Homo sapiens: one gene and its partners. The protein of the gene in region 1 interacts with the protein of each later gene in a pairwise test. Each region holds a gene or a part of one and is shown in the gene's direction. Other genes may lie near its edges.

What was found.
Region 2: the proteins of CFAP53 (region 1) and SH2D4A interact in binary tests that used the Homo sapiens proteins (3 or more experiments, as listed by UniProt).
Region 3: the proteins of CFAP53 (region 1) and HIP1 interact in binary tests that used the Homo sapiens proteins (3 or more experiments, as listed by UniProt).
Region 4: the proteins of CFAP53 (region 1) and PARVG interact in binary tests that used the Homo sapiens proteins (3 or more experiments, as listed by UniProt).

The regions. Positions count from the first base shown.
Region 1 is NC_000018.10:50,261,934-50,271,316, reverse strand, and holds the start of CFAP53 (cilia- and flagella-associated protein 53), read left to right. Parts: upstream 1-4,821; 5' UTR 4,822-4,912; coding exon 4,913-4,981; intron 4,982-9,097; coding exon 9,098-9,327; intron 9,328-9,383. Other genes in the region: MBD1 (methyl-CpG-binding domain protein 1), read left to right, coding at 1,499-1,688. UniProt on the Homo sapiens protein: Microtubule inner protein (MIP) part of the dynein-decorated doublet microtubules (DMTs) in cilia axoneme, which is required for motile cilia beating.
Region 2 is NC_000008.11:19,392,131-19,396,718, forward strand, and holds the end of SH2D4A (SH2 domain-containing protein 4A), read left to right. Parts: intron 1-1,187; coding exon 1,188-1,411; intron 1,412-2,419; coding exon 2,420-2,512; 3' UTR 2,513-4,088; downstream 4,089-4,588. UniProt on the Homo sapiens protein: Inhibits estrogen-induced cell proliferation by competing with PLCG for binding to ESR1, blocking the effect of estrogen on PLCG and repressing estrogen-induced proliferation. May play a role in T-cell development and function.
Region 3 is NC_000007.14:75,728,437-75,736,998, reverse strand, and holds part of HIP1 (huntingtin-interacting protein 1), read left to right. Parts: intron 1-8,562. UniProt on the Homo sapiens protein: Plays a role in clathrin-mediated endocytosis and trafficking. Involved in regulating AMPA receptor trafficking in the central nervous system in an NMDA-dependent manner. Regulates presynaptic nerve terminal activity.
Region 4 is NC_000022.11:44,197,512-44,206,073, forward strand, and holds part of PARVG (gamma-parvin), read left to right. Parts: intron 1-830; coding exon of another isoform or gene 831-854; exon of another isoform or gene 855-1,056; intron 1,057-1,109; coding exon 1,110-1,211; intron 1,212-8,245; coding exon 8,246-8,318; intron 8,319-8,562. UniProt on the Homo sapiens protein: Plays a role with ILK in promoting the cell adhesion and spreading of leukocytes.

The DNA.
Region 1 (9,383 bases):
TAGAAGAAGTAAGCGGGAAAGGAAGAGAAAGAGTAGAAAGTTGGTGCATCTTCTCCTCCCCAAGAGCCTGAGTATAAGAAGTTGGATTTTAAGGGTGGGGGAGCTGGGTTGGAGAAAGGTAATATAATTAAAGCCACCACAAAACAACCTAAACAAGCCATGTTCATGAGTAATTGTAAGTGGCTTCTGGATGAGACCTGGCAGTGTCTCTACATACTTCCTCAGGGAGATAGCAATTGAAAATGTAATTGAATAAATAAGGAAAGGAACTGCTATTTGGTGTGTTCCTCTGTGGACCCAGTTTATTTAATCCTTAAAATAATATTTTTGGGAAGACATTGATTTTGTCCATTTATGTGGATGGGAAAACTGAGACTCATTAATTTGTCCAATGTCGAACAGCTGGTGTTAGTAGAGCCTAGACTCAAACCCAGCTTTTAAAGCCCTTGTTCTTTACTCCACTAAACTGTAACCTGTAATCCTGTATGCACTAACAGGAGTTTTCGGTGACCTTGAAAACACAGATTACTATAATTACTATAATAAATCCCTTACATTCCTGTCTCTAGCATGGTTTAGGGAGTGCCAAGGCTCAATGTAGATGGGGTCACCTTGTCAGAGCATCTGTTCATACAGAAACTGGGTTTCCTGCAGACCCCAGGTGCTGCATAGGATTCCTCAAACCCTACAGGATATATCTCCCCACTGGCTGCTGTCCATTTTGCTTGTTACCCTGACTCCCCCTCTTCAGCCAGAGCAGTCTTTGTAACTAAAGCTGCCAGCCTGGCTCATCTTTCCTGACAACGTGCATCTCCTGCCCTGTGATCACCTTTGTGCTTGGCTCCTGCCCTCAGCCTGAATGTGTTCTAGGAGGCTGAATTCCTGCTTCGAGTCCTGCCCAAGAGCCAGTCTTGGCTCAGCCCTACCTCACTCTCTCCCAATTCTTCATTCATAAAGTGCCAAAAAGATTAGACCTGTAATTTGTTAGCCAGCTTTACAGGGCCAGGACTGAGTGAGTGCCTCCTTAAACTTTGTATCCTGTGTGCCTCCCTTGCCTTACCCTAGTCCCAGCCCTGCAGCTTTAAGTAATTCAGACATGGATTAGCCATTTCCCAGTTCTGTCTCATACAGTCCAGCCTCTGCCACCTTCCCCACCCCTTCCTTTATTCCATCCTAACTAGTTCAGCCCTAGTCAAGACTGGATAGACTGATACTGCTTTGTTTCCCCCAGGAACCAACCACCCAACCCCAGTATTCTGGTAATTTTGACAATGATCTATATGAAATTTATTTGATTGACATTTAGACTCATGAGTTAAGCTTCTGCTGACCATTTATGTTAGGGTACAATCAGAGGAGCAGAACCACTAAGATAAAGATTATGTATATATGTATTTTAAGGGATTTATTATAGGGATCTGACCGCATGCCATTGTGGGAGCTGGTTAAACAGTCTCTGTAAGGCTGTTGTCTTTGCATCTAATGCTGGAGCTTGAAGTCTGCAGGGCAGGCACTCGGGAAGGGAAGATGGATGTAAAGTGTGGGAGACCGAGGACACAGTGGAGCCCACGAGCACGAGCTGGAACCCACGAGGATGGCCTGGAACCCATGTCAGTCTCTCACCACCTCCAGCTTCGATGATGTGGGTGTCCTGCAGAAGAAGCTGGTGCCCTTCCTCACAGAGTTAAATATGCATCTGGCCCAGGAATTAGAGAAGCTGAAAGGATGATCCTGGGGAAGGTGGAGCAGCTGCAGGCCTGGCTGCAGGCCTGACTACTGCCCACACCAACGAGGTGATCTAGCAGATACATGGCAACGTGTGAACTGCAACAACGCCTGGTGCCCCAGCACCAACCTTCCAAGTGTAAAAACAATGTGCTGCTGCTTCACTTCCGCCCTCCGGTTATCAAGCAAAATGTCTCTTGTGGCCCATCTTACTGGAAGAGAGTTCCGGGAAACATAGCCTCACCAAGGTGACACATTACAAAGCCACCCTACCATGAATCCGCTCCCAAGGGTCTCACTGCTCACCTGAGGATAACTCAATATAACTATGTGGCTGAAAATGCAAAGCTGAAGACCATGGATTTCATGGTGATTCCAGCAAGTACAGAGATTCTATGAAGCCCACCCAGAAAAAACTTGCTGGTCCTGGCTATTTTTGTGTCATTTATTCAAGTATTGAGAACCTGGCCTGTGGTAGGCACTGTACTTAATACTAGGATACAGAAATGCAAAAGATACGGCCCATGCAATTTTATTAAATGCATCAATATGTATTACAAATGGTGAATGGATTTCCAACTTTATCATGGAATTTAATGCTGAATATATAGAATTCAGAAAATTGTTGGGAGGACAGCCCTTTTGTGAACCTTGTTTGGGGCACAGTAGGAATTGGAAATAATTTAGTTTCTATCTCTAAGCTGTTCTATTTTAAAATTATTTTTAAATTTTTATTGTCCCACTTACTTACATGCTTAGTGTTTCTTTTGGGAGTGGTTTGGTGGGAACAGTGTTGACTGCCTCTGAGAAACTGGGATAGTGGGTGGGAAGATCAAATCAAGGTCACTTCTTTCCAAGGACCCTGAGCGATTCACTTACCTAGGCCGCGGGGGCGGGGGGTTGGCTGAAGGCTGAGGCTCTTGGTGCTCAGCACTGGCCGGACACCTTCAACCTGCTGGTGGGTCCGCCAGGGGGCGCCGGGGCGAGAAAGCCCGTAGTTCCCAGCCACAGTCACCCACCGGGGCCCTGGAGGCACCGCTCGTCACCCATCACCCCTGGCCTGGCCGCCCTGGGGCGTGGTCTCCGTCCGGCGCAAACCCCAGTACTTGGGCTAGGGCCAGAGGGAAGCTGAGTCCCCCTCTTCAAATAGTGGTAAAACAGGCAAAACCGAACCGGGGTTAAATTTCGGAGCTCGCCCAGGGTGAGGGCGGGGCTCGACGACCTAGGACGTTCGAGTGCGGCCGGGTGTCGCCAAGGGTCGGTTTACCCCATCGCCTCAGAAATTCCGACGAGGCCCTTTGGGCTGCACAACCTTGGGAATCCCCAACGGGCGGCCCCGAATCTGCGCCGATTTTCCCAAGCCGTACTTCGGGCCCAAGGCGTTTTCATTGCCGCCTTCCCGGAGGATGTGTGGTGGGGGTGGTTCCGCCCGGACCGACGGGCGGGCCCGGAGCCCGTTGGACTCGAAGATCAAAGAACCGCCCCTCTGGACACTCCAGGAAACCGAGACGACCACCTAATTTGTTTGTTTTCTGTTTCAGGCCACGTAAACTCTTAGTAAATGCAAATGCGTATTTTACTGAACTGCAATTGAAAGAACCGTTATAGAAAAGAACACAAAATGACAGAATTATTAAAAGAGAAGAAAAACATTATTTCGTGGCTGAAAAGCTGAACCAGCAATTCAGGAAATGGAATTCGTATTTAGAAACATACCACATACAAAATCCGAAGTGGGTGGTTTACAAATGATTAAGGAATGCTAATTTACAGTAAATTGCGTCCTTAAGAGGGCATACACATTAGTTGTACTTATTATATGTCAGTTTGACGTAGGTACTGATTTGTTGCATGTGCTCACAAGTGTTCTATGCTCACCCCCACTTTAGAATGGGAGTATCACAGTGTCATTCTTAATTGGCTTTTAGGTATTACCACCTTGCTCTTGACTGGAAATGCAACTGTGGTTACCACCTGTGCTGCAGGTCCGTCCTGGTTCCCTGATTTGTGTTTCCTGTTCTGCCTGGATCCTGATTCTCAGAAACCAGTTACTGGACTTCTGATCCACATCCTGACCCTGGTCCACTGTGACCCTCAGACTCTTAATTATGCTCCACCAGGTCGTGCCACTGCCCCACTAGTCCATTTGATCTGCCCCCATCCTAGGATATCCTGAGTCTAAGCCCTGGTTTCTGCCAATGGCAAATAGGAAGATTTTATTAACAGGTTTTAAAAAATTATTATTATTACTGGTTATTTGGTTTGACAAGGCACTTAGGCTCCCTGAGCTTTGCCTTAGCTGGAAAATAAGGATAGTATTACTTGCTATTCTATCAACCCTGTAAGATATTTGCGGCCACGCGCGGTAGCGCACCCTGTAATTCCAACACTTTGGGAGGCCGGCGGGAGGGGCAGTGGGGAGGATCGCTTGAACCCAGGAGCAGGAGTTCCAGCCTGAGCAACATAGCGGGACCCCCTGTCTCTTCAAAATTTGTTTTTAAATTAGCAGGGCGTGGTGGCGCAGGCTTTGTAGTCCCAGATACTCTGGAGGCTGAGGCCCAGGAGGACGAGGCTGCAGGGAGCCATGATCACGCCACTGCACTCCACCCTGGGCGACAGAGCGAGACCTTGTCTCAGAAAAAATCTGTGAGGTTAAAAGGCTGTGTGTGTGAAAATATCTTGGAAATTGTAAAGAACTACACAAATATAAGGTTTTCCTGTGATTATTACCGTCATCAAGATTAACCTACAGATAGTGCAAAATTTAAGCTTCCCAAAAAATGTTCGCTAACCTTTTTCATACTTTTAGACCATTACAAGATATAAATAGCAAAGTCAACTGGAATTGTAATTAGAGCTTTGATTTTTCTTGGGCTAGAGGTTTTTTCTGCCATTCTGATGAACCCTGGAGGAAGGGAGCAAGGTCGGCGGGATTTGGCCGAGGGGCGGGGTGAGGACTGCGCAGGCTCAGCTTCTCAGCTGGAAGAGGAAGTCCCGAGTGCAGGCGTCTGCGGCCCCCATGGTGACCAGACCGACTTCCGCCCGACCCGCCCACCTCTACCGGCCCCTAATCCCGCGAGGCGCACCATGGCAACCAGACTTCTGCGTCGCGGAAGCGGGTCCCGCAGGTCGCCACGGTTGGGGGAAACGCGGCGGACGCCGCCCCCGTCCCGAAGGGGACTCGAAAATGTACAGCCAGCGGTTTGGCACCGTACAGCGGGAGGTTAAGGGCCCCACCCCCAAAGTGGTGATCGTGGTAAGCACAGGATATGTCTGCCAGACCCTACAGCTTTCTCCATCTCTCCGCACTCCAGGCCTGGCCTATCCCACTTCGGCCCCCACCCGGGGCCTTCTCGAGGGGAACGGGTGTCGCCTGATGCAGTGGGTTGAATTTTGAAAGAAGGAAGATAAGGTCGCTCACCTATCTACCCCACCTCTCACCCACTCATCTCCCTCTGTTTTCATCCTTACAGCCTTTCATCTGCCCCCAAAGTTATAATATTTAGGTTCTGTTTTTGGAGAATCACCACTAGGGATCTTAGGGTTTTTCAGTCTCCAAGACACCGGAAGGATGTCTGTCCCCCATGCAGTGGCGAGTGTGTGTTATGGAAAGGGCACCCGGCCCAGAGACAGATCTGGGGGCAGGGCGGGCCTATGATTTGGAGCTGGTCTTTCACTCCTAGGAAAATCGTCTGAGGAAGGGGAATTAGGTTGTGAGTGGTTATAGCACCCAACGCCTTTCCTGTGCCAACTCAACCAGTAACCATTGCTGGACAGAAGTGTCCCTTCAGACCTGGGAAAAACTCAGGTGCCTGCCTCTAAGGCTGGAGTGGTAGTAGGCCAGGAAAATGTGCTTGCTGCAGAATTTGATGGTTCCTGCTGAGAACCTCAGACACTATTGGTCCATACATGTAGATTTTTTTGTTTCTACAAATTAGTTTCTACCCACCAGAAAACTAACATGTAGGCAGAGTTATTGCTTGAGCCCCTGCTGTGTGCGCAGTATTGTGGGAGATACAGGGGTGGATACAATGATCCTGGAAGGTTAACTCTTTATTGAAGCCTGAGCCCTCCCTTCAAGGAGCTTATACAAGTCAAGTATCCCTTATCTGAAATGCTTGGGACCAGAGATGTCTAGGATTTCAGATTTTTTTTTTGGATTTTGGAATACTTGCATATACATAATGCAATATCTTGGGGAGGGGACCCAAGTCTAAACACAGAATTTATTTATATTTCATTACCTCGAAGGTAATTTTATTTTCCCCTTGGGGATGCTGAATAAATATGTGTTGTTTGCTTGTGTTTTGACTGTGACCCCTTACATGAGGTCAGGTGTGAAATTTTCCACTTATGTCATCATGTGGGTGCTCAAAAAGCTTCAGATTTTGGAGCATTTCAGATTTCAGATTTTCAAATTAGGGGTGCTCAACTTGTAATCCAATTGCAAAAAAAAACTTAGGTAGAATGAAACCACTAAAGGTTAGCACGGTAAATAATGATGTGCTATATTGTCTGTGATGTCAGTTGATGGATGAAAGATCAGTGATACAGTTTTATTATGCTCCACAGTGCACATAGCAAACTTCAGTCAACCTATAGACCTGCTCCTTCTTTAGGTCCAAGTACTGTAAGATCTGGAGCTGGAAAGCAGTAGATGGGACACATAAGTAGGCTGTAGGGTTCAAGGTGATAATTATAAACACACTTCATGAAGGACAGAAGATCTACTTTGGGTTCTGTATCCAAACACTGGGCTCAGGGGCTGAGCCATTGTTGGGTGCTATTACTTGTGTTGGGAACCAATAAGGAACAGAAAACAAACAAAAACACTAAACCAGAGAAGCGGGCTTATTGAATACTTTGCACCTAAGAAGAATTAAGAGGAAAAGGAGGAGGTTAGAGTTGGTGCATCTGCTCCTCCGGTGTCTGAGTGTGATAAGAAAGATAGATGTTAGAGGTAGCAGAATTGTGTTGCAAGAATTAAAGCCACCAGCAGATGAGACTTGGACCCTAAACAATTCCCCAGGAGAAACCTGTGAAAAATTTAATGTCTGAAGTAATGGGACATCAAAAGGAGCAGCTATTTGATGAGTGTCTCCTAGGAATCCATTAGGAGGATACTTATTTTGCTCATTTGACAGGTGAGAAAACTAAGATTCAAAGAGATTAAGTAACTTGCTCCATTCAATTAGTAATGGACAGAGGCCAGAATCAAACCTAGGATGTAAAGCATTGTTCTTTAAGACAACCGAACTGTAAATTGTAATCCTAATAACTATAACTGGAGATGCTACAATAACAGCCTTCAGTGACCTTGAAAACCCACAGTAGTTAGTAAAATATCCTGTGTTTTCCTGACTTTAGCATGGTTTAGAGCTGTGATGTCCAATAGGTAGCCACTAGTCACACATAGCATTTGAGCACTTGAAATGTGCCTAGAGTCACATATTGACAAGATAACATCTTGGATATATTGGTTAAATAAAATATACTATCAAAATTAACTTCCCCTGTTTCTTTTTACTTTTTTAAATGCAGCCACTTGAAAATTTAGAATTACATATCTGTTTTGCATTATATTTATATTGAACAGTACAGACTTTGAACAATACCACGACTGTGCTGGGATTGGCATCACCTTTTTTGAGAACTCCAGGTCATACCCCTAACTTATCAAGAGATTGGGTCCTTCCCAGACCAGAGTCCTTCACATGATTCCCAAGCCTTAAAAGGCTTCCTGACCCCTTGGGTACTGCTCATGGTATTTGTCACCTCTTCAGCCAAAATATCCCTCAGCCCTGTTTCCTGTCCTGACAACTGGAGCCAGTGTTTCTAGATTTACTTGGTGTTTCATTCCTGTTCTCAGCTCACACTGGGACCCTTAATTCCTGCTGTGTATGCTGCCAAGGGTGCCACTGTGATCCTCCTCTGCTTTATTTTCACAGATCTATATTCATAAAATGCCAACTGTATTGGAGAACAGTCATCTAATTAGCTGGCTCTAGGCTCCAGATAATTATGACATGGATTAGCTACTTTCCATGATATAACCCCCAGCATCATCTTCTGTCTCCTTACCACCCCAGGCTTGCCTTATCTTGTTCAGCTAAATCTAGGTACCTATATGTGTACCCTGAGCCCTGAATCTTTTCATTAAACTGTCTTCAAATGTTGATTTTCTTTCCTCAGGAGACTTCATTACAAACACCTAACCCTAGTATTCTGGTAATCCTGATGGTGATATTCTAAATGTAAAAGATCAGATTGACTCTCTGTCTCTTAAGAGTTTTGTTTCTGTGAATCAGCACCCCAGTATCTCACAACTTACCTAAGGATGACTTGATAAAACTGTTCCTGAAAATACAAAGCTCAAGACTATGGATTTTATGGTGGCTCCAGGAGGTGCAGAAATTGCATCAAGCCCACCCAGCAACATTGTTTCATTCATTCACTCATTCATTCATTCATTTCTATTGAGGACCTCACTGTAGTAGGCATTATGTTCAATGCTAGGAATACAGAAAGGAAAAAGATATAGGCTATGTGATTTCATTAAGTGTATCTATATATATTCAAATGGTACATGCATTTCTAACTTTTTTAGTGGACATTTCTGTAAAAACAGTACATTTATAGAAATTCAAAGTAGCCCAAAAGGTCAGGAACACACTCTTTGCATTAAAACTTCTGGGCACCATAGAAATAGGAATAAAGTTCTACCACCAGCTTTTTTTCTTTTCCCTCCTCTCTTCCTCCCTCACTTCATTTCTTCCTTCTTAGTCAAAGATCTTTCATTATCACAACTCGTTATATATCCATATACATATACACATATATATACACACACACATATACATGTATATACACACATGTATATTTTTTCTATATATTCGCATAGTAGCACCTTTTCATTGAAAGTATTTTGATGTGATAACTATGGTGTCCAACCGTGAGAAATAATGTGGAATAATGAGTGGCAATGTCAAGGTCGGGAATTAGAAGACCTCTAATTCTTGTTTTATCTGCCCTATTTGAAGCAAGTTCAGCAAATCACTTAATGTCTCTGGGTTTGACTAGACAATCTCAACAGAGTCCTGTTCACATTTTTAACTTTGTAATTTCCATCAACTATTTTTCAAATGGCACATTAGAAATATTTGAGACTGTTTTGATGACATCTTAGGTATAGGCTCAGAGAATGAAACAAGTTACTCTTTAGGTGCATAAGCTGTATTCAGTTGTAGTAGGATGTATTAGTTTTTTATACCCAATTTTATTTAGTATGAGTATTGATTGAGAGCATAACTAATTGAAAATATGCAGTTGATTCTTTGGCTTATTATAAGTGATAGTTGGTTTTTGTTTTCAGAGATCCAAGCCTCCTAAAGGCCAAGGAGCTGAGCACCATCTAGAAAGAATCCGACGCAGCCATCAGAAGCATAATGCTATTTTGGCTTCCATTAAGTCAAGTGAGCGGGATCGCTTGAAAGCTGAGTGGGACCAGCACAATGACTGCAAGATTTTGGACAGCCTTGTGCGAGCAAGAATCAAGGATGCTGTGCAAGGGTTTATCATTAACATTGAAGAAAGACGAAATAAGTAAGGCTCACAAACCTGGGACATAAACCATGAAATATTCCTAAAACCACAATTTG
Region 2 (4,588 bases), on another chromosome or scaffold:
ACTAACTGGGGAAAAGGCTGGTCTGGAGTAAGAGTGTGAATTCCTGAGGCATCTAAGCTATGTCTATATATAACTTCATATGTGTATATAAAGACACACATATAGTTTTATTCCTTTAAATGCCAGTGTAGTGTCATTTAGCAATAGCTACAGGCTAAGGTACTTTATAGAACTGAGTAGAACTGAGTCTGACTTGGCTCTGTCACTAAATTACTGAGCCTCCCACACCAGGGAGTCTCAATTTCAGCACTACTGCTATCTGGGGCTGGATAATTCTCTGCAGTGTGGGGCTGTTCTGTGTCTCATAGGCTGTTTAGCAACATCCCTGACCTCTAACCCCATCCTCCATCCATGACAACCAAAGATGTCTCTCGGACACCTTTGTCCGAGTGGTTGAGAACCACTGTCCTAGACCAAGTCAAATCACTCCCCAGGCCATTGAGTCCTTGTTGGTAAACTGAGGTAGCCTAGGGAGAGTATCTTTAAATCCCCTCCCAGATCTAACATTCCCAGGATGACCATCAAGGCGTTCTGTTAGACCCTTATAAACCGTCTAACACCTGTGTGTTGCTCTAAATGGGTGTATAAGTAGAAATATATTCCTTTTTTTTTTGTTTTGTTTTTTGAGATGGAGTCTTGCTCTGTTGCCCAGGCTGGAGGGAGTGCAGTGGCATGATCTCGGCTCACTGCAAGCTCCGTTTCCTGGGTTCACACCATTCTCCTGCCTCAGCCTCCTGAGTAGCTGGGACTACAGGTGCTCGCCAAAACGCCCGGCTAATTTTTTGTATTTTTAGTAGACATGGGGTTTCACCGTATTAGTCAGGATGGTCTCGATCTCCTGACCTCGTGATCCACCCACCTCGGCCTCTCAAAGTGCTGGGATTACAGGCGTGAGCCACCACGCCTGGCCCAGAAATATATTCTTCTTTTAAGGTTGACATTTAAGCTCTCATGTATACCTCTATACATGATTTTTATACAGTTTGCCTCTATAACCTGTTCATGTCTAATTAGCAAATACCAGAAGAATATTCCGTATTCCTAAGAAGCCCAAAACAGACTTAAAATTGCTCTTATTGTGTCTTATTTAGGCGTCATTGACTCTATATCCATGCAGCTGGATTTAACAGAGGGGATTTTCTGGAATGATTTGGCTGAAATACCTGCCTTTTTTTGCTTTGCCACAGGAATTCTCACACTCAAGAAAGCAAATGAACTTCTTCTGAGCACAGGCATGCCCGGCAGTTTTCTCATCCGAGTCAGTGAAAGGATCAAAGGCTATGCCCTGTCCTATCTGTCGGAGGACGGCTGTAAACATTTCCTCATCGATGCCTCTGCAGACGCCTACAGCTTCCTGGGCGTGGACCAGCTACAGCATGCCACCTTGGCGGATTTGGTGGAATATCACAAGGTGAAGCAATGCATAAACTTAATTTGCCTTCTGAGTTACTGTCCTGTAGCAGCTCTAACAATGAATGACAATTACAAAGAAAAGGACTGAGACAAGTACTGGGGAGGGGACAGGGGTGGGGGCTTGTCTTTGATAATTCTTCCTGATAATCAGGATTGTTAATCACATTTCATTTATCTTAGAACCTAGTTCTTCCTTAAATACTCAGGGAACCCCACTGGGGCAGAGAATACGGGAAATGCTAAAACAAAAAAATAAAAGCTGTACCCACATGGATCACATATGACAGCAATCCCCAAACTTTGTGACACCAGTTTCCTGGATGACAATTTCTCCATGGACTCAGTGTTGGGGGATGGTTTCAGGATGATTTAAGCACATTACATTGATTGTGCATTTTATTATTACATTGTTATATATAATGAAATAATTATACAGTTCAACATAGTGTAGAATCAGTGGGAGCCCCGAACTTGTTTTCCTGCAACTAGACAGTCCCATCTGGAGGTGATGGGGGACTGTGACAGATCATCAGGCATTAGATTTTCCTAAGGAGCGCACAACTGAGATCCCTCCCATGCACAGTTCACAATAAGGTTTGTGTTCCTATGAAAATCTAATGCTGCTACTGATCTGACAGGAGGCAGAGCTCAGGCGATAATGTGAATGACAGGGAGCAGATGTAAATACAGATGAAGCTTCACTCCACTGCTCACCTCCTGCTATACAGCCCAGTTCTAACAGGCCACAGACTGGTACTGGTCCATGGCCCTGGGGTTGGGGACCCCTGACCTATGAGAATTCATAGGCCTTAAGTTAGAATTCAAGCCCTGAAGGGAAAGGAGTACCTGGTCACATGTAGATAAGAAAAATGCCTTTTAAGATGATCATAAACCACAAAAGCTTTGTGTAAATCATGGGTAGGCAGCTAGTGATGTCCTCTGAGGAAGTAGGAAGAGCATGTGGTCACTACTTACACTATCTGACCCCGTGCCTTCTGATTGACAGGAGGAACCCATCACTTCCCTGGGGAAGGAGCTCCTTCTCTATCCCTGTGGTCAGCAGGACCAGCTGCCTGACTACCTGGAGCTGTTTGAGTGACAGCCTCCATCAGGGTCATCCTACAGCCTCCAAGCGGGCTTTCCCCTGGACAAATGCCACTGCAACATTTATGTGTGAAGCCAAAATCACCCTGCAGCAGAGCCAATACTGATCAACTGAAAGTAAAGTATCCATGGAGTCCTCATTGACACCTCTTTTCTGCACAAATACTGGAATTCAATGTCAAGAGAAAATGACCTCTGCTCAAAAGGGAGAAGAGTCTCAATTTCAGCAAGTACCTGTCATGAAGGGTATGACCTTAATGATGTACATAAAATAAAACAAATGAAGAAATGGAAAACTTTTAGAAATTAAGGTGTACTTGAAAACGAATATCTATCATATGACCCCTGCACTCCCTCTGTATCATCTCAGGAGGTTTCAGGGGCCTGTTGACATGAAGTTTCGAAGTTTCATGTTGGCTTTGGAATGGTAGCAAAAGCCTTTCCTGGCTGAGATGATGCTTAAAACACACCTCACTTATTGTACATGTTGGAACCAGGACATGAGAGACATAGAAAAACAGAAGTCATGAATGTAAATTGAATGAGAGGCTTAACATGCATGAAAATACAGATGGACCTGCAGGAAAGTGAGCAAACATCGCTGAGTTTGTTTTCTTGTTCGGGAGAATGGGGCCGGGGCTGGCCTGGCCTCCCCTGGATATACTCTATAGTGCACCAAAAGGATAAAGCATCTGTACATGTATTTTTTTATTTTTTATCAGAAGTGCTTAGACAAGAACAGAATAAGCAGGCTGTTTGGATGCTACTTGTGGTTGAATTGTGTTCCCCCAAAATATATGGTGAAGTCTTAACCCCCATCCCCGTGAATGGGACCTTGTTTGGAAATAGGGTCTTTGCAGATATAGTCAAGATGAGGTCACATTGGATTAGGGTGGGCCCCAAATCCAATGACTGGCATCCTTAGGAGAAGAGAGAGTTTTGGTAATAGACACAAATGCAGTGGGAAGAAGACCAGGGGACAAGAGGCAAGTTGGAGTGATGCAGCCGGAAGGGAAGGGACACCAAGGATCTCCGGCCACCAGCAGAAGCCAGCAGAGAGGCATGGGACAGGTTCCCCACAAGCCTTAGAAGGAAGCATGGCCCTGACTTCAGAATTCCAGACTCCAGAACTGGAAGAATAAATGTCTGTTGTTTTAAGCTGCTTAGTTCATGCTGAGTTCATGCTGACTTGTTACTATAGCCCCAGAAAGCTAATACAGTCGTTTATGTAATTACATAACCTGACACACAAGATCGACCCATTCACTGCTGCCCAGTCCACCATTTTCATAATGAAGTAGAAATGGGAGGTAAGAAAAACATTCCAGCCAGTTCTGTTTAGCCCTGGCACACATATTTGTCCCGTCAGGAATCTTATGCCCTCCTGGAACCCCCGCCCACCTCAGTCCAGTCCCAGTCAGGCGAACGGCCTCTGGACAGGGACTGAGGTGGCTCTGAGCCACTGGAGATCATTTTTCTTGGAGGATGGAGATTGGCTAGTACCTCTGGCCTAACTGTGTAGGTCAATACTCTTTTACATTGCCTTCTAATAAAAGCAGAATGATACAGCAGTGTTGTTACAAGCTTGTTGGTTGCGTACAGCACTCATTGACTATAAAATGTAGCCAGAGAAGGGGATGGTTGGCATGTGTGTTCTAATGAGAAAGATGATGGTGATTATTATTTTTAGAGACAGAGTCTTGTTCTGACACCCTGGCTGGCATGCAGTAGTGCGATCACAGCTCACTTCAGCCTCAAGCGATCCTCCTGCCTCAAACCCCCAAAGTGCTAGGATTATAGATGTGAGATACTATGCCAGGTAGAGATAGCTTTTAAACATAGATCATTGTTTAACTCTTTCTTGAAATGTTCCATGTGGTTTATATTGTTAAACTATTGTAAGGATCCATCTCTTGGCTTTTGTTCCTATGATTCAACAGTCATGGCATTATTGAGAAACTTCTCAACTCTTCCTACCATTTTCTGTATAATCTTGGACAGGACAGTTTGTCTCTGAGCCTCAGTTTTTGCTTCTGAACAAAAAAAAATATGATTCAACTGGGTGATCTTT
Region 3 (8,562 bases), on another chromosome or scaffold:
GTGGGCTATGATCGTGCCACTGCACTCCAGCCTGGGTGACAGAGTGAGACTCTATCTCTACAAAAAAGTGAAAAAAAGAAAGAAAACCGCGCGCAGGTGTGTCTGGATAGTGTGAAGCAGTGGGACCCTGTCTCTACAAAAAAAAAAAAGAAAAAGAAAAAAAGAAAGTGCCTCCATGCAGGTGTGTCTGGATGGTGTGAAGCAGGGAGTCTTCTCTACCTGGTTATCCTACCCCAGGAGGGAAGTGGGAAATGGTCATTTCACTTCTGCCTCCCAGGATCCAGCTAGGTTTGAGGCTTGTTCTCTGGTTTCATGGACCCGACCCCTGAAAAGAAGGAAGTTTTCCATTGGTCTTGGATGTTAGTGCCTCTGCTAGCTGCCTAGTTACATGAGGCTTCTTGCTCCATGAAACAGTGTGTATATTCCTTTTATTTTTATATTTTCATAGAGATGGGGGTCTCACTGTGTTGCCCGGACTGGTCTCAAACTCCTGGCGTCAAGTGATTCTTCTGCTTCTGCCTCCCAAAGTGCTGGGACTACAGGCATGAGCCATGGCACCCAGCCCTATTTTTTTTTTTAATAAATGAAATAAGAAAATAAATAGATATTATTTTTTAACAACCCGTTCCTTCTAGAGTCTCAAATAAGTAAAAACTAGAGCAATAGAGAAATATGCGTAAGACTTTGACCCATAATAGTGATAGAAATTAGGTTTGTGAAAGTTTCCACCCGTGAGTGGTATGTTTCCCTGCTATCCAGGGACGGCCCAACAGGAGAGTCTAGGTCAGTGTTTTCTGGTGTTTTACATTCTGTGGGACATTTGTGATTGGCCAGATTTGACCTGGGTGGGGTGGGTGGGGGTGAAGTAGAGTGGAGCAGAAAAAGAGAATTTTTCTGATGTTGAAACTCTTATTTTTAACTTTTTTTTTTTTTAAGACGGAGGTCTCACTGTGTTTTCCCAGGCTGGTCTTGAACTAGCCTCAAGCGATCTTCCCACCTCAGCCTCCCAAAGTGCTGGGATTTCAGGTGTGAGCCACTGCACCCAGCCTCTGGTGTTGAAACTCTTTAGGGGTGTAGGAGAGTAAAGAAAAAGAACCAGCCTGGACAACATAGTAAGACCCCATCTCTACAAAAAATAAAATTAGCTGGTTGTGGTATCACGTGCCTGTTGTCCCAGTAACTTTGGAGGTTGAGGTGGGAGGATTGCTTGAGCCCGGGAGGCAGAGGTTGCAGTGAGCAAAGATTGTGCCACTGCATTCCGGCCTGGGCAACAGAGTGAGACCCCATCTCAAATAAAAAAAAAAGAAAAAGAAAAAGAAAAGAAAAGAAAAGAGAACAGCCCTAAACCCAACGTTAGTCAATCTGCAAAAAAATTATTTTGTTTAATGACTACCTATCAAATGTATTATGAGGTTGCAGAGCTTGGTAAGCAAAGGGAAAAAAGGGGAAGAATGTATTATGAGATATAAAAAATGAATTAGAAAAAATTTAATGAGTTAGGAGACCATGAGAATCAGCCAAGGTATAATAATAACTAACTAATTATTGTGTTTGGCAGTATTCTAAGGACATCATTGTATTACCTTTTTAAATCTTGACAAGAACGGATGAGGTGGGTATCAGCCACATTTTACTCTCAGGACGATTGAGGCACAGAGAGGTTAAGTAACTCACCAGAAGTCACACAGCTGGAAACGGTCTCAACCTTTACCCACTGCCTCAGGCAGCCTCTGAGTACTGAGCAGATGCTGGCATTGGAGTTAGAAGGCATTTGAGGCTTACAGCTGGGCATGTACATGGGCCTTGTGGTCTCTGGGAAGTTGTCTAACCTTTCTAAGCCTCGGTTTCCTTATTGTCAAATAAACATAATACTTACCTGGCTGATTTATTGTGGGGATTCAATTAAGCCCAATATGCCTGAAGGCATTTTGTAAACTGTGGAGCACTAGTTCAGTGATTATTGTTATAATCTGACTGGGGAGACGAACCCGAGACAGCAGAAGTGTGAGCAATCAAGCAGGCTGTGATTAACTCTTCCTTAGAGGGATAGATGTGGTACTAGGTAATGGGATAATTACCAAGAGCACGTGGATAAAGCACAGGCTTTGGGGTTGGGAGCCCTCCCCGAGGACTGAAGCACATCTTGTAGCATGAGTTAGTGCTTGCTGGGTGGAGGAGGGGATGGGGCATTCCAGTGACAGAAGAACATAAATAAAGAGACATCTAGACTAGGCAGATAAACTTCCCAGCGGGTGCAGTGGAGACTCATTGGCTGGGGTAGACAGAGAGGCAAAATTGGCCACTCCCTCCTCTGAACTATAGCAGGGCTGGTGACCTCTCCTAGTTCCTGTGACCTTGTGCTGGCATCATTTCTCTCTGTGGCCCCCATTGAACACTGAGCTTATTGAGGGCAGGTCTGTGTCTTGCTCTTGCCTGCATCCTGAAGCTCATGGTTAGTGGTGAATGGGGTCAGCAAGGGAACCCTGGGCCTAGGTGGGTAGTTCAGCCCTGGGCCACAGGATATATTAATAATTACTTTATTTATTTTTATGTAAGAGATGGTCTCGCTCTATTGTCCAGTCTGGAGTGCAGTGGCACCATCATAGCTCAGTTTTGCCTGGGACTCCTGGGCTCAAGTGATCCTCCTGCCTTAGCCTCCTGAGTGCTGGGACTACAGGAGCATGCCACCATGCTTAGCTGATCTTTAAAATTTATTTATTTATTTATTTATTTATTTATTTATTTATTTATTTGAGACAGAGTCTCACTCTGTTGCTCAGGCTGGAGTGCAGTGGCGCCATCTCGGTTCACTACAACCTTCGCCTCCTGGGTTCAAGTGATTCTCCTGCCTCGGCCTCTCGAGTAGCTGGGATTACAGGCGAGCGCCACCACGCCCGGCTAATTTTTTGTATTTTTAGTAGAGACAGGGTCTCACTTGTTGACCAGGCTGGCCTCGAACTCCTGACCTCAGGTGAGCCGCCTGCCTCAGCCTCCCAAAGTGCTGGGATTACAGGTATAAGCCATCGTTCCTGGCCTAGAATTTTTTTTGTAGAGATGGGGTCTTGCTGTGTTGCCCAGGCTGGTCTTGAACTCCTGGGCTCAAGCAGTCCTCCCGCCTTGGCTTCCCAAAGTGTTGGGATTACAGGTGTGAGCCGCCGTGCCCGGCCTATAATTACTTGTTTTCTTATAATGCTCCAGGGTCGCTGTTGGTCTAGCCTTGCCTCCCGCATACCCAGTCTAGAGCCTGGCCACATGCCCATCAAAAGACTCTCACTGCTCTGCCTGCCTTCTTCTGTCCTGGCGTCTATACCCTCAGACCAGCCTTGCATACCTACTCCTGCCAGCCTCCTCCAGGAAGCCTTGCCTCCTCAACTCTCCTGCACCATCCTCACATTTCACCTGGCCACTGTCACTGCCAGAGGAGGCACCACTGACCTGCCTCATGGCCCAGCCACTGCACCCATCTCCAACCAGACCCTTGGTGTGTTCCCCACCCAATCCATCACAAGCCACTTTCAAGCTTTAGGGAAGTGAAAAGTACTGCCTGCCCTCAAAAAAAAAAAAAAAAGAAAAAGAAAAGAAAGGAAAAGAAAAGAAAACCCAGCCGTAATAAGGAGACCTTATCAGGAGTACTTTACAGTTTATAAAGCATGTTTCTAGCCATCATTGGGACCACACGGTGGTCAGTCATTATCATTTTCATTTTATGGATGAGGACATCGTGACTCAAAGAGCTTGGTAACGTGCCCAGGGTCATCCCACGGGTGAGTGGAAGGGCCAGGATTCAAAACCAGGACTCCAGGTTCCAAGTGTCAGGCCCGTTCGACCACACTGTCCTCCCACCAGCCAAGAGGGCAATTCTGGAATCAGCCAGGAGGGCTGTCAATCACAGGACAAATAAAATAGTCTGTTTTTACTTAGCTGGAAAATGGTTTTCTCCATGGTTTGTTTATTTCTTCAACATCCGTTTAGTGAGCACATACCGTGGAGGAGACACAGAGATGAGTAAGATAAAGAGACCGGCTCTGGGGGGCTCGTGAGTCAGCAGGGAGGCAGACTGGCCACTGCGGGGCTCCTGGACAAGCCTTGGGGCTCTGATGTGGTCAGGCCCCGAAACACCAGCATCACCAGGGCCATTAGGATGTTGGGCACCACCCAGAACTACTGAATCAGGACTTGTCGTGTTCACCACAGCCCTGGGTACTCTGTGTACGCTGATGTTTGAGCAACAGTGCTCTGTAGTAGGTGAGTTCTGGGATTAGAGGAAAAGACACAGAGTGGGGAACAAACCTTTAGAGAGTCAAAATCTCTTTGGGTGAGCCGGGCGCAGTGGCTCATGTTTATCATCCCAGCATTTTGGGAGGCTGAGGCGGGAGGATGGCTTGAGCCCAGGAGTTCGAGACCAGCCTGGGCAACATAGCGAGACCCTGTCTCTACAAAAAAATCAAATCAAATCAAATAATTAGCTGGGCATGGTGGTGCTGCCTGTAGTCCCAGCTACTCGGCAGGCAGAGACAGGACGATTGTTTAAGCCCAGGAAGTTGAGGCGGCAGTGAGCCGTGATCACACCACTGCACTCCAGACTGGGTGACAGAGCCAGACCCTGTAAAAGGAAAAACAACACAAAAAAAGCCAGAAACAAACAAAAAAAGTCGGTGGATAGCGCATACGTCAGAGCAAAGGATCTTAATGCATCCTGCGTTGAGAAGAGCCTTAGATCCTAGAGAGAAAGAGATAGAAACAAATATTTATTGAGGGCCTGCTGGGTACCAGGAACATGCTGGGTGATTTATATCTATGATTTCATTTTAATAGCTCAGGCTCAGAGAGGCTAAGTGACTTGTCCAAGGTCACACAGCGAGTGAACCGAGAAGCCAGGACTTCACAACCAAATGGCAAAGTCCTTTTTTTCATGTTTACGTTGCGGGTACTTCTGCCCTCTTGCTCATGATCTTAAGCAGATGCTCAGCCTTAGTTCAGCAGCTAAAAAATTTTAGGGCTGGGCTAGAAGGATCTGCGGTTCTCAACCCTGGCTGGAGAGCTCTTTGAAAAAATAAAATACTGTTTCTCTGGGCCCCCTGCATAAGGATTCTGTCTCATTGGTATGGGGTGATCATTGACATTTTGTAAAGTCCCAGGTGGTTCTCATGTGCAATCAAGATGGTGACCGTGGGTCCTGATGGGTTCCCACACCCCTGGCACCCCACGGACTTTGGGTGGCTCAGTTGGTTCTGGTTATACTCAGAAAACCAAGATGGCCCTAAGCCTGCTTCCTGCAGGTAAGAAGCATCTGTGTCAGGTTTGTTCTTTAGGAATGCAAATGCTCAGAGCCAGGCTGTGTAGCACCCTGAGCCTTGAACCTGGCGCCCCACCCCTTCTGCTTCTGGAGCAGGTGCACAAAGAAGTCACCCCTTGCCTGAAGTCTGAGCAGGTGCCTTCTTGCAAGGAGAGCTGCTCGTGAACCCCATTTTTCCATTTACTTGACAATCAGAGCTGGCGTTTTTTTTTTTTTTTTTTTTTGAGTTGGAGTCTCTGTCACCCAGGCTGGAGTGCAATGGCGCCATCTCGGCTCACTACAATATGTGACTCCTGGGTTCAAGTGGTTCTCTCACCTCAGCTTCAGGAGTAGCTGGGATTATAGGCGTGCGCCACCATGCCCAGCTAATTTTTGTATTTTTAGTAGAGACGGGGTTTCATCATGTTGGCCAGGCTGGTCTCTAACTCCTGACCTCAAGTGATCCGCCCACCTTGGCCTCCCAAAGTGCTGGGATTACAGGCGGGAGCAACTGCGCCTGGCCCAGAACTGGCTTCTTAAACTTCTGTACCCTTCTATCTCCCCAACCTTGCTCCTTTAGTGGGTATTGAAAACTTAAGAAGGAAGTTAAGAGCTTTCTTTTGGTCCCTGGTTTTGTACTGTCCTGAGTTTCTTCCCAGTGATGGTAATGGTAATCGTCAACATTTACTGACCAGGCATGGTGGCTCATGCCTGTAATCCTGGCACTTTGGGAGGCTGAGGCGGGCGGATCACTTGAGGCCAGGAGTTCGAGACCATCCTGGCCAACACGGTGAAACCCATTCTCTACTAAAAATATAAAAATTAGCTGGGCGTGGTGGTGCATGCCTGTAATCCCAGCTACTCGGGAGGCTGAAGCAGGAGGATCGCTTGAACCCGGAAAGTGGGGAGGTTGCATTGAGCCGAGATCACACCACTGCACTCCAGCCTGGGCAACAGAGAAAGACCTTGTCTCAAAAAAAAAAAAAAAATTACTGCCCACATACTGTGTGCAAATGGTAAAGGCCTTACATGAGCCACCCTTTTCGATCCTTGCAACACATGTATGAATTATAATTCCTATTTTAGGCTGGACACGGTGGCTCACACTTGTAATCCCAGCACTTTGGGAGGCCGAGGCGGGTGGATCACCTGAGGTCAGGTGTTCAAGACCAGCCTGACCAACATGGAGAAACCCTGTCTCTGGTAAAAATACAAAATTAGCTGGGCGTGGTGGCGTGCGCCTGTAATCCCAGCTACTTGGGAGGCTGAGGCACGAGAATCACTTGAACTCGGGAGGCAGAGGTTGCAGTGAGCTGAGATCGCGCCATTGCACTCCAGCCTGGGCAACAAGAGCGAAACTCCGTCTCAAAAAAAAAAAAAAATCCTATTTTACAGAGGAGGAAATTGAGGCTTTCAGGGGTTGATAGCTATGCTCTCTGTTTGTCCTTCTGTCACTGCCTGGCACCCTCTGCTCTCTTCCTCCTTATGCTTGGGGTCCCCAAGGCGTTGTCCTCACCCCACTTCTCTTTTACCTCCTGTCCACTTCCTTTGCCCTCACCTCTGTCTGATGGTTTCTGTTCTCACTTCTGTGGCACTGACTCCCCACATCTCCCTCCTGACTTCCCAGCCTGAGTGACCACTTCCCACTGGACAACTGTACCCCCTCGGGCGGCCCCATGGCAGGACAATGGTCCCCACCTTCTCTCTGGTGTCAGTTCTGAGCCCTCCCTCCTTCCTGCCCTCACAGCCGCATTCTGTTGAGTGCCTCTGTGAGACTTGTCTCACCCATTCATCCTGTGAATCTTGCATTTCCTGCTCTTATTACATCTTGCCTGGATTTTTGTCATCTCATCCTGCCTGCCCTCTAAATCACCTGTTCTGGACAGTGTCCCTCAAATCCAACACTGTGATTTTTGTTTGTTTGTTTGTTTTGTTTTGAGACAGAGTATCGTTCTTGTCAACCAGACTGGAGTGCAGTAGCGCGATCTCGGCTCACTGCAACCTCTGCCTCCTGGGTTCAAGCTATTCTCCTGCCTCAGCCTCCTGAGTAGCTGGGATTACAGGCGCCTGCCACCATGCCCAGCTCATTTTTGTACTTTTAGAAGAGACTAGGTTTTGCCATGTTAGCCAGGCTGGTCTCGAACTCCTGACCTCAGGTGATCTGCCCACCTCAGCCTCCCAAAGTACTGGGAATACAGGCGTGAGCCATTGCGCCCGGCCGCTTTTTTGTTTTTTAAGAGATAGAGTCTTGCTGTGTTGCCCAGGCTGGAATGCAGTGATGCGATCATAGCTCACTGCAGCCTCGAATTCCTGGGCTCAAGTGATTCTCCCACCTCAGCCTCCTGAGCAGCTGGGACTACAGGTATGTGCTGCCACACCCAGCTAATTAATTTTTTTTTTTTTTTTTTTTTTTTTTTTGCAGAGACAAGATCTCACTACGTTGCCCAGGCTTGTCTCAAACTCCTGGCCTGAAGCGATCCTCTCGCCTCAGCCTCCCAAATTGTTGGGATTATTGAGTCACTGCACCTGGCCCAACAATGCTTCTTCTTTTTTTTTTTTTCCTGTTCTAGTTTCTTATTTTTATTCACTTGTTAGAATTTTGGTTTTTTTTTTTCTTCTGTTTCCTCTACACTTTTTTTCCTCAACTTTTAAGTTCAGATGGTACATGCGCAGGCTTGTTACATGGGTAAACTGCATGTCACTGAGTTTTGGGGTATGAATGATCCTGTCACCTAGGTAGTGAGCATAGTACCCCATAGGTAGTTTTTCACCCCACTTCCCCCCACCATACTCCCCCTTCACTGACAACTACTTTTATAACTGCCCTTTTTCAAAAACTTTTGCTGCCTTCTCTGAGACCCTGCCTGATATGGCACCATCAGGGTCCCTCGTCCCTGGTCCCTGGTCCCTGTCCTTTTTTTTTTTTTTTTTTTTTTGAGACAGAGTCTCGCTGTGTCTCCCAGGCTGGAGTGCAGAGACCCCATCTCTGAAAAAGAAGATTAAAAAAAATAAAAATAAAGGGTTGGTGCTGCACGTTAAGAAGGATGGGGCGTGTCCCTATGGCCCAGGAGATCAGATTCCCTGCCCCACTTGGGCACTGAAAGGGTTCCCCCTCTGGCACTTCTGCAAGGCACTGATGAAGACTGTTTTCTGCTCCCCATTCATTGGCCCACTTATTCCACTGCCTCAAGGCGAGGTGTGGCGGAGACCTGGGTGTGGCAGCGGGCACAGCCTTGTGCAGTGGGCTGGCAGCCAGCTCTCCTCCTGCATCAAGGAGGGTTGATGAC
Region 4 (8,562 bases), on another chromosome or scaffold:
GGCCACGTGAGAAGTTTGTGTGTGATATGGTGTGGCAGCATGGCAGGGTGGAAGTATCACGCTCTGTAGCCAGACAGACACACATTTCCCTCCTGCCTCCACCACTTATGGGCCCTGGGGTCTGCTGAGAACCCTCCACATTTGCTGTGTGACCTTGGGTGAGTTACTGGACTTCTCTGAACCTCAGGCTCTTCTTCTTATAAAGTGGGTACAAGATAGCAACTTGGTAGAATTGTGAGTGATACATGAGCTGGTGAGCCCCACGTGTTTGGTATATTACCTGGCACGCTGCCGGCATGAAATAAGTGAGAGATTTGTAGTTTTATTATATTTTATGTGGGTATAAACAGGATGATTTCTGAGATTTACATTCTACCTGTTCTATCTGTATCTCTCCCTTGGTAAAATAATGGGTTTCAGAGACTCATGGCATGTGCAAAGGTGGTATTTAGAGACTGTTCAATAAAATGGGGTAAGGAAGTCCCTTGCATTTCAGTTGTATTACCAAGGAATAGCAGCAGAAAAGATTTCAGGCCCAAACTAATAACATCGAAGCAGACTTAATATGAGGAAATTCCATTAAGGGCTTCGAATGGCAGTTCCTTCCAATATCCCATCCTGTGTTTTGTATCTTTGAAGAGTCTCAATAGGATTATATTAACATATGATATGCTGGTGGCAGGGACGACAGCTTTATCTCTGAACATACAGACAGAACAGACAGAAATATTAATGTGGCAGCCAGCGAGATGAGCCTGGTGTGCTGCTCTCTGCCTTTCTCTGATGGAATAATTTTACACTTAACTCTGTTTTCCCCTGTGTTTCTGTAGCTTGTGGAAGAGCGTGCTGTTTAAAAACTGATATGAGGCTTTTCTGCAGTAAGTTTAGAAAGCACTCTTTTCACTGAGCATGTACTATATACCAGGCAGCCTGAAACCACTTTTTACCTGCAACCCTGTGAGGTCAGGCATGTCTTCCCCACTTCTCATCAAGGCACCAGAGGCTCAGAGAAGTTGTATGACTTCCTTAGGGCCACACAGCCTGTAAAAGACAGAGTGGGCTTCGCCAGGCTTCTTCCATGTGATTGTCTCCAGTTCCTTCCTTTGTAGTTTGCAGATGGGGTCATCTTACTCTTGCTGATTGGACAACTTGAAGGCTTCTTCCTGCACTTAAAGGAATTCTACCTCACTCCCAACTCTCCTGCAGAAATGGTAAGTTTTCCAAGGATTTTTCTTTATGGTCTACCTCTAGGTGAACAGATATACAGAACTGGCATGACCAGTCTGTTTATTCACTTCCAGGTGAAGTGAAGGGTGTAGGGGAAGCTTATTTGTCTATATGTCTGCCTATCCATCCATCCATCCATCCATCCACCTATTCACCTATCCATCCATCTACCCATCCATCCATCTACCCATCCATCCATCCACCCACCCATCCATCCATCCATCCATCCATCCATCCATCCATCCATCCATCATCTACCTATCTATCCATCCCCATCTACCCATTATCTACCTACCTGACCGCCTATTAGCCCTCCTGTTCACCTACCAAGCCACCCACCATCTATGCACCCATCCATTTAACTGCCTACCTGTCCATCCACCTAACTGCCTACCTGTCCATCCACCTACCTGCCTGTCCATGCACCTATCTTCCTGTCTGTTTATTCATCTACCCAGTCCATCCATCCATCCATCCACCCACCTACCTGCCTGCCTGTCTACCCACCCATAGGAAGTTTATCTATATGTCTGTCTGTCCATCCATTCATTCATCCATCCACTTGCCTACCGGTCCATTCACCTGCTTGTCCTGTCATGCATCCATCTGTTTGTCCTTCAATCCATCTTCCTGTTCTGTTTATTGATCCACCCAATTTACCCATACACTTGCCTGCCCATCCACCCACCTGCTCATCCACCCATCCCCTACCCACACGCCTGTTCCCCCATTCCCTGAGGGCCTGTTTAGTGCCAGGCCCTGAACTGCATGGGATGTTAAGTTGATCCAACATAGCTCTTGCTTTCAGGGAGCTCTCAGTCTGTGCCCACTGTTCTCCTAGTGACGTGTGGTCTTGCAGGGCCACAGTGAAACGTGTTGGTTCAGATGCCTGGGTCAGAGGAGGGGCCTGGAAGAATGAGGGCTTAGAATAATCTCAAGGAGTCAGGAAGGGCATTGCATCAGAGGGGAGCCGGGAAGTTGATCAGGGATTGGTTTGCAGAGTTATCAAGGAAGGGCTTGCAGAGGGGAGGGAATAGCATCAGCAAAGGCTCAGAATGTGGCAAGAACAGGAATGGGTCAGGGAGGTGTAGGTGCTTCACTCTGGCTAGAGGGGCTGGAAGGGTGGGGCCTGACCTGGGGGGATCAGCAGTTCCCACGTGGACCCTAGAGGCTGGTGGACTGGCTGGGAGCTGGCTGCCTGCTTCCAGGCATGAGGGCTGTGGCTTGACCTGGGGAAGAGGGATGAAGAGAGTGATGGAGGTGGGGTGAGAGGGCAGGTGAGCCTGCAAAGATGCAGCTCCCACCGCCTCTTCCCCAGGTACAGCCTTCAGTGCCCGCTGGCTAGTCCTGCCTCCGCCCCCGCCAGGCCCCTGTGGTGTGTGCCACCACTTCCTCCAGCTCCCTGGGCTCTCCCATCTCTGGGCTTTGCCACAAGCTGTTCCCTTCCCAGGAGCACCCTTCCTACCAGGTAGGCCTGGCCCATGAGAAGGGATTTTACTACTTTCCAAATAAGGAAAGAGAGGTCCACGGGCAGCCAAGGCTTACCCCGGGTCACTGCCAGGCAAGAGGCCTGAGTCTTGTGCTCTTCGCCACCAGCTCCCTGCCTGCCTGGACCTCAGGTTTTCTGTCTCTGAAAATGGGCTGACAATCCCTGCCCCCTACTCAGGCCACACAGGTAGTAAGAAAGAGTTTGGAGAACCATCGAGGAGAAAGCATTGAGGGACATGTGGTCCCTAGTATCCCCAGGCTTGCCTCTCACAGGAGGTGACATTGGAGGCGTGCATCCCAAAGGACAGGCTGGAGTGTTGGTGGCTGGTGGCGTGCCCAGGATCCCGGGCAGCCAGCTTATCTCCATCCATGCCAGGGTTCCCGTGGCCTGGGGCAGGAGGACCTCTTTATCTCTCTGCAGCAGTAGCTTTTTCTAAAGAGGTGAAGCAGGAGGCAGGGCCACATGCCCCGTCCCAGGGCCAGCCTCTGGGGCTGTTTCTGGGAGAGACAAAGGCTTCCATCCCTTTCACATGCTCAGGGCGTCCTTGGCCCTGGATCAGGCCTCTTGGCCTATCTGGGGCCCAGTAGCAGGTGAGGTCCCCCCTGGACCCCTACCAGACTCCCCCTCCACCTAGGCCCTTCTTCTAGGCCGCTCCCCTTAACCTTCCTGGACACCCACCCTTGTGCCTCTCCCCTGCTTCAAGTGGAGCACCCAACTGCCAAGCCCCATCTGCCTCCCCGACCACGTCCCCTCCTCCCTTCCTGCCGACTCCCAGCCACAGCCACAGCCACAGCCACATGACCTCTGGCCCCCTTCCAGCTCTCCAGGGCCTGGTCCTCCCCCATTCCCTCACATCCACGCAGGCTGTGCTCTCAGCCCAGCCTACCCTGGCTTTGCTTCCCACCTGCTTCCCTGGGCGGGCGGCCAGCTCTGCCCACCTTCTCAGCTCCTCTGCAGTCCCTCGGCGCTCTGTGGGGCCCTGTACCACAGTCCACACTCCCTTGGGGTTAGCTCCCTGCACTTTGCCTCTCCTGGCCCTCTCCCCACTCACCCTCCCTCCTTGCCCCTGTGAGAGCGGGGCAGGGCTGCATCTCCATTTTACAGAGGGGAGCCCAGGGCCCGAGAGGCTTACCCAGTACCACCCAGCTGCTCAATGGCAGCCTCACACCAGCACAGCCTGCCGCCCGCAGCCTGCCATGTCCCTCGCCCCCACGGGGATGCATCTTGAGTGGGTGTGGCCTCCACCTTCCCTGGAGGCCAGGTGCTCTGGACTTGGTTCCCAAGAGCTGGGATGTTGGGTCAGAGCAACGAGGCCGGGGCAGTCAGTGTCTACGGTCCTGGTGGTTGTGGCAGGCACGGTGCCTGCTGCTTCCTAGGTTCTTCCATTCGGAGGAGCTGCATCAGCCAGCCATTGCCACAAACGTGCTGCTTAACAAACCACCCGAAAACCTAGGGGCTGAAAACCATGCTCATTTCTTCCCACAGACCGGCAGGTCGGCTGAGTTTAGCTGCTAGAGGCTCAGCTAGGCTTTGTCACTCCTCCGAGGACTGGATAGGGATCAGGCTGTCGTGGCTGGGTGGCTCGGCTCTGTGCCACAGCCTGCCATGTTCCTTCTGGGACCAGCAGCTGGCCCGGGCACGCTTTCCTCCTGGCAATGGCAGACACATGAGAGACCAGGCAGAAGGCATGAGGCCCTGGCTCAGAATGGGCAGGCTGCCACTTCCATCGAAGCAGGCCCTGTGGCCTTGACAGTGACATGGGACAGCCCTGCAAAGTGTGTGGGTGCAGAATTGGGCCGATGGTGGGATCTCCCACGGGCAGTGTGGACGAATGTGCTAGCAAATCCTCATGTTGGGTCTTGGAGTTAGGAACTCTTCCCATCCCCACTTCCACAGAGGAAACAGTTGAGAGAGGCACAGAAGTCTGGCCCAGAGCACACAGTGAGTTAGGGTCCTCCCTGTTTCCCTCCTGTGGAGCCAATGTGAGTCTCTGGGAGATGGAGGGGTGGCAGGGCTCAGTGGGGTTGAAGCCAAGGCTGAGACTGGGGTCAGAGCCTGCCTCGGGAAGGCAAGGCACTGAAATGTGAGCGGTGAGGAGAGAAGGCGGAGGAAGGGGGCAGGCAGGACCACCTGCGGGCTGAGGGCCTGGGGCTCGGAACCCAGCTCAGAGCCACTCTGGGGTGCCCCTGGGCTGCAGGGCCTCTGCTCAATCTGTTGCACCATCCAAGCCCCAGTTACAAGACGGGAACAAACGTGCAGACTTCCATGTTGCTGTGTGCAGCCGCTTTGCTGAATCCACTGATTTTAGAACTTACTTCTGAATATGAGTCAGATTAGATGTGGGGGAAAAGCAGCAGCCTCTTAGCTCAGACTCCAAGAATGAATTTTTACAGCATATTGTGGGCAATCTCTGCTGCAGGAATGTGTAATCAAAATGCTGAAGAGGTCGTCAGCTGAGGAGGGCGGGAACACCAGCCCTTGCTGAAGGTGGGCCTCTGCGGAATTGTTATCTTGGCAGAGTAGCCTCTTGAAATTGGATTTCTCATTATCAGACCCTCTTTGCTGATGGTGTTTATGTGAGATAGTTATTCATTGTGGGCACGGAAGTTAAGGATGGAGGGAGAGAGGATCATTCGCTCCCAGAAATAAAATCCCCGGAGCCAGGAATCCTTGGCGTCCTTCCACGTTAAATTACTTTCCCCAGGAGGATTTGCACGTATCCTCCCGGGTTGTAACCTTCTCTCAGCTCCGTGGAAGGTGGTAGTTTTATCTTCATCTCAAGCCACACGCGGAAGAAAAATCTCTGGACAGAGCATCATGAGATAGCTCTGGAGCCAGGGTCAGCTCTTACTGGGGGATGATCTTTTGTTCAGATTGAGTGTCATTGAGGAAGAGTGTGACAAACAGAAGCAGATGTCATAATTTTCAGTGTCGATAGCAATTCCCAAAGCATAAGCTCTATGAGGGCAGGAGGTCTGGTCTGTTTTGAGCACTGGTTGTATGGCTAGCACATAGTAGATGACAAGTATTTTTTTAAATAAGTGAATGAACGAAGTGTTTCCAAAACATTGGTCCCAGGAGGTGTTCTGTGACAAATGGGTTCTATGAATAAATAACTTGGGGAAACATGTCTAGTCTTGAAGGTTCATGCGGCCCACCAACACATTCAAGGCTCTAATAAGTCCTGCAGTGAAGGACTTCCATAGTATTTTATTTAATCCAACAATTTCTAAAAACGTTTGGCCACAGATATCCCCTTTCCTGTCCATCTTAGATCACAGTTTGGGAGATGCTGGCTCGCTGAATGTATCAAAGGCGGAGCTTTGAGGCAGGAGAGCACAGTGCGGAGTCTGGAACCTCAGGTTCCTCAGGGTCTTGTTCTCACTCCGACATTTACTCTCCATGTAACTGCAAATAATATTCGTGATGAGAATGCGAACAATAGCAACAATTGCAACCCTAGTTTCCCAGAATATTCCAGTCTAGGAGGAAGAACTGGGGACACAGTGATGGGAACTTCCGGTGATGCTCTGGTCTGTCCACTCGGAGCTTCCCATCCATCTTGGTCTGGACAGTCTCAGAGTTTCACCCCGCATTGGCCCCTGCAGCATGCTGCAACATTGGTGCCGTGTGATAGCCTTTGTTTCGCTCTTGTCACCCAGGATGGAGTGCAGTGGTGCAATCTTGGCTCACTGCAACCTCCGCCTCCTGGGTTCAAGCAATTCTCCTGCCTCAGCCTCCCAAGTAGCTGGGATTACAGGCACGTGCCACCACACCCAGCTAATTTTTGTATTTTTAGTAGAGACAGGGTTTCACCATGTTGGCCAGGCTGGTCTCGAACTCCTGACCTCAGGTGATCTGCCCACTTTGGCCTCTCAAAGTGCTGGGATTACAGGAATGAGCCACCGTGCCTAGCCTGTTTCTTCTTGTTGGCTGACTACAGAGGAGCGGCCCTGCTGCTGCTGCTGGGCACCCTGCCCATACACTCCTTTCCATCTGGGACCCGCCCTCCATCTTCATGTCCCCACGTGGAGAAGGACTCTGCTCACCCACTTCCAGCTCCTATGCCTTCATCATCCTCACCTTCAAATCTTGCTTTGTGGCTTCAATTCTGTGTCCGTCATCACATTGGACGCACATGGCAGCCTTGGAGAGGAAGGCAGACAGGTGTATCATCCCCGTGACACAGATGAGGCACCTGAGGCCCAGCCAGGATGTGTGACTTGTCCGAGGTCAGACACTTAGTGGCAGGGATGGGGGTGGCAGTACACAGACATCCAAGCTAGATCCCAAGAGTCCTCTTGCTCGGGCCATCCAGCAGGTGGCTGGAGGTGGCCTGGGCCAGGCTGGCGTTTCTGGATGAGTCTTGCCTGGCCTTGCTCATCCACCGCTCGGCCAACCTGGCCTCTTGGCCCCTGGCGGGTTGCCATGGGAACTGCCCTGTCCTGGTGGGGCTGGTGTGGCCAGGCAGATAGGGAGGGAACGGGACCAGCACAGCTGACCCCCGGGCTGGGATGTCCACCCCGTCTAGTGGATCTACGGGTGGCTAAGACATTGAAGGGAGGACCTGTTTGAGGTCACAGTGAACCAGGAGTTCATCCCTCTTCACCCACACCAGGCTGCTGCCCTAAGGCAAAGGGCTGGGACCTACTCTGCTTGTAGACGAGGCCCAAGGGAGAAGCTAGAATGGAAAGGGAGGGGACCTACTGTGGGAGGGCCGGCAGGCTCCTGGGCTCTCACCATATCCTGTAGCAAGGCACAGGGGAACTGTGGTGAGCCCACTTTGCAGGGGAGCAAGGGGAGGCCCTGGGCAGGGACTAAGCTGAGCTCTGAATCACTGGGGGACTTGACTGATGCCCGGGCGCTCTCCACCCTAAAGGGAGCCATCTCTGAGACTGCACCCCAGGCAAGGGGTGGCGGAAAGGACAGCCACCTGGGTGGGGACCGCTCCAGTCTCTAGCCTGCTTTGCATGAGCATTGGAGCGGACAGACCTGGTTTGAGCGCTTTCTGTCTCGTGAGCTCCAGTGAGCCCCTTGGCTCCTCTGAGCCTTGATTTCCTCACTGTGCTTTGCCCTGGGAAACAGCTGTTCTCAAAGGTGCTCTGCCACCCCAGGCCCTTGCTCCTTTCCCTGGGTAGTTCTCCCTGCCTGGCGGGACTCACCACCAGGCTTCACCTCCACCAGGAAGCCTTCCCTGATCCCTATTGGGTATCCTCCTTGGCGATTGCCTTTTTCACGGGCAGTGGCCCCTGGACGCAAGCGTGTGCCCAGTGTGGTATAGCACCTGCTCAGAGTGGGGCCTGTGAGTGGCTGAGGAATGAGACATGGATTGCTTGTGTGACAGAGTGAGCTGTAGGGAGATGCTGGATGACCACGGATTGTGGTCGTGGTCAGGGATGCCCACCTTGGATGGGAGTTTAGGCTCATGATGGACATCACAGACAACAGGAAGGGCTTGGCACTTGGGACCCAAGGCCTGGCCTGGGGCTGCTGCTTGTGCCCACATCTGATAGGGCCTTGTCATCATAGCTGCACAACGTCACCCTGGCGCTGGAGCTGCTGAAGGACGAGGGCCTGCTCAGCTGCCCTGTCAGCCCTGAAGGTGAGTGCAAGGCAGATGCCCACACGGTGGCCAGCCCTGGGTGGCAGCCTTGTGCGAGAGCCACAGAACAGGGTGCAGGGCATTGGGGGATGAGCACGCATTGGCAGAGTCCTCTTGCCTGGCAGGGGTGGAGAATGGGCGCTTGCCAAGGTTTCTTGGGAGGGGGCACTGCAGCCCCAGGGGAAGAGGTTCTGGGGAGGGGGAGACCAAGGTCTCTGGGGACAGGTTGTCCAGAGAAGCCAGA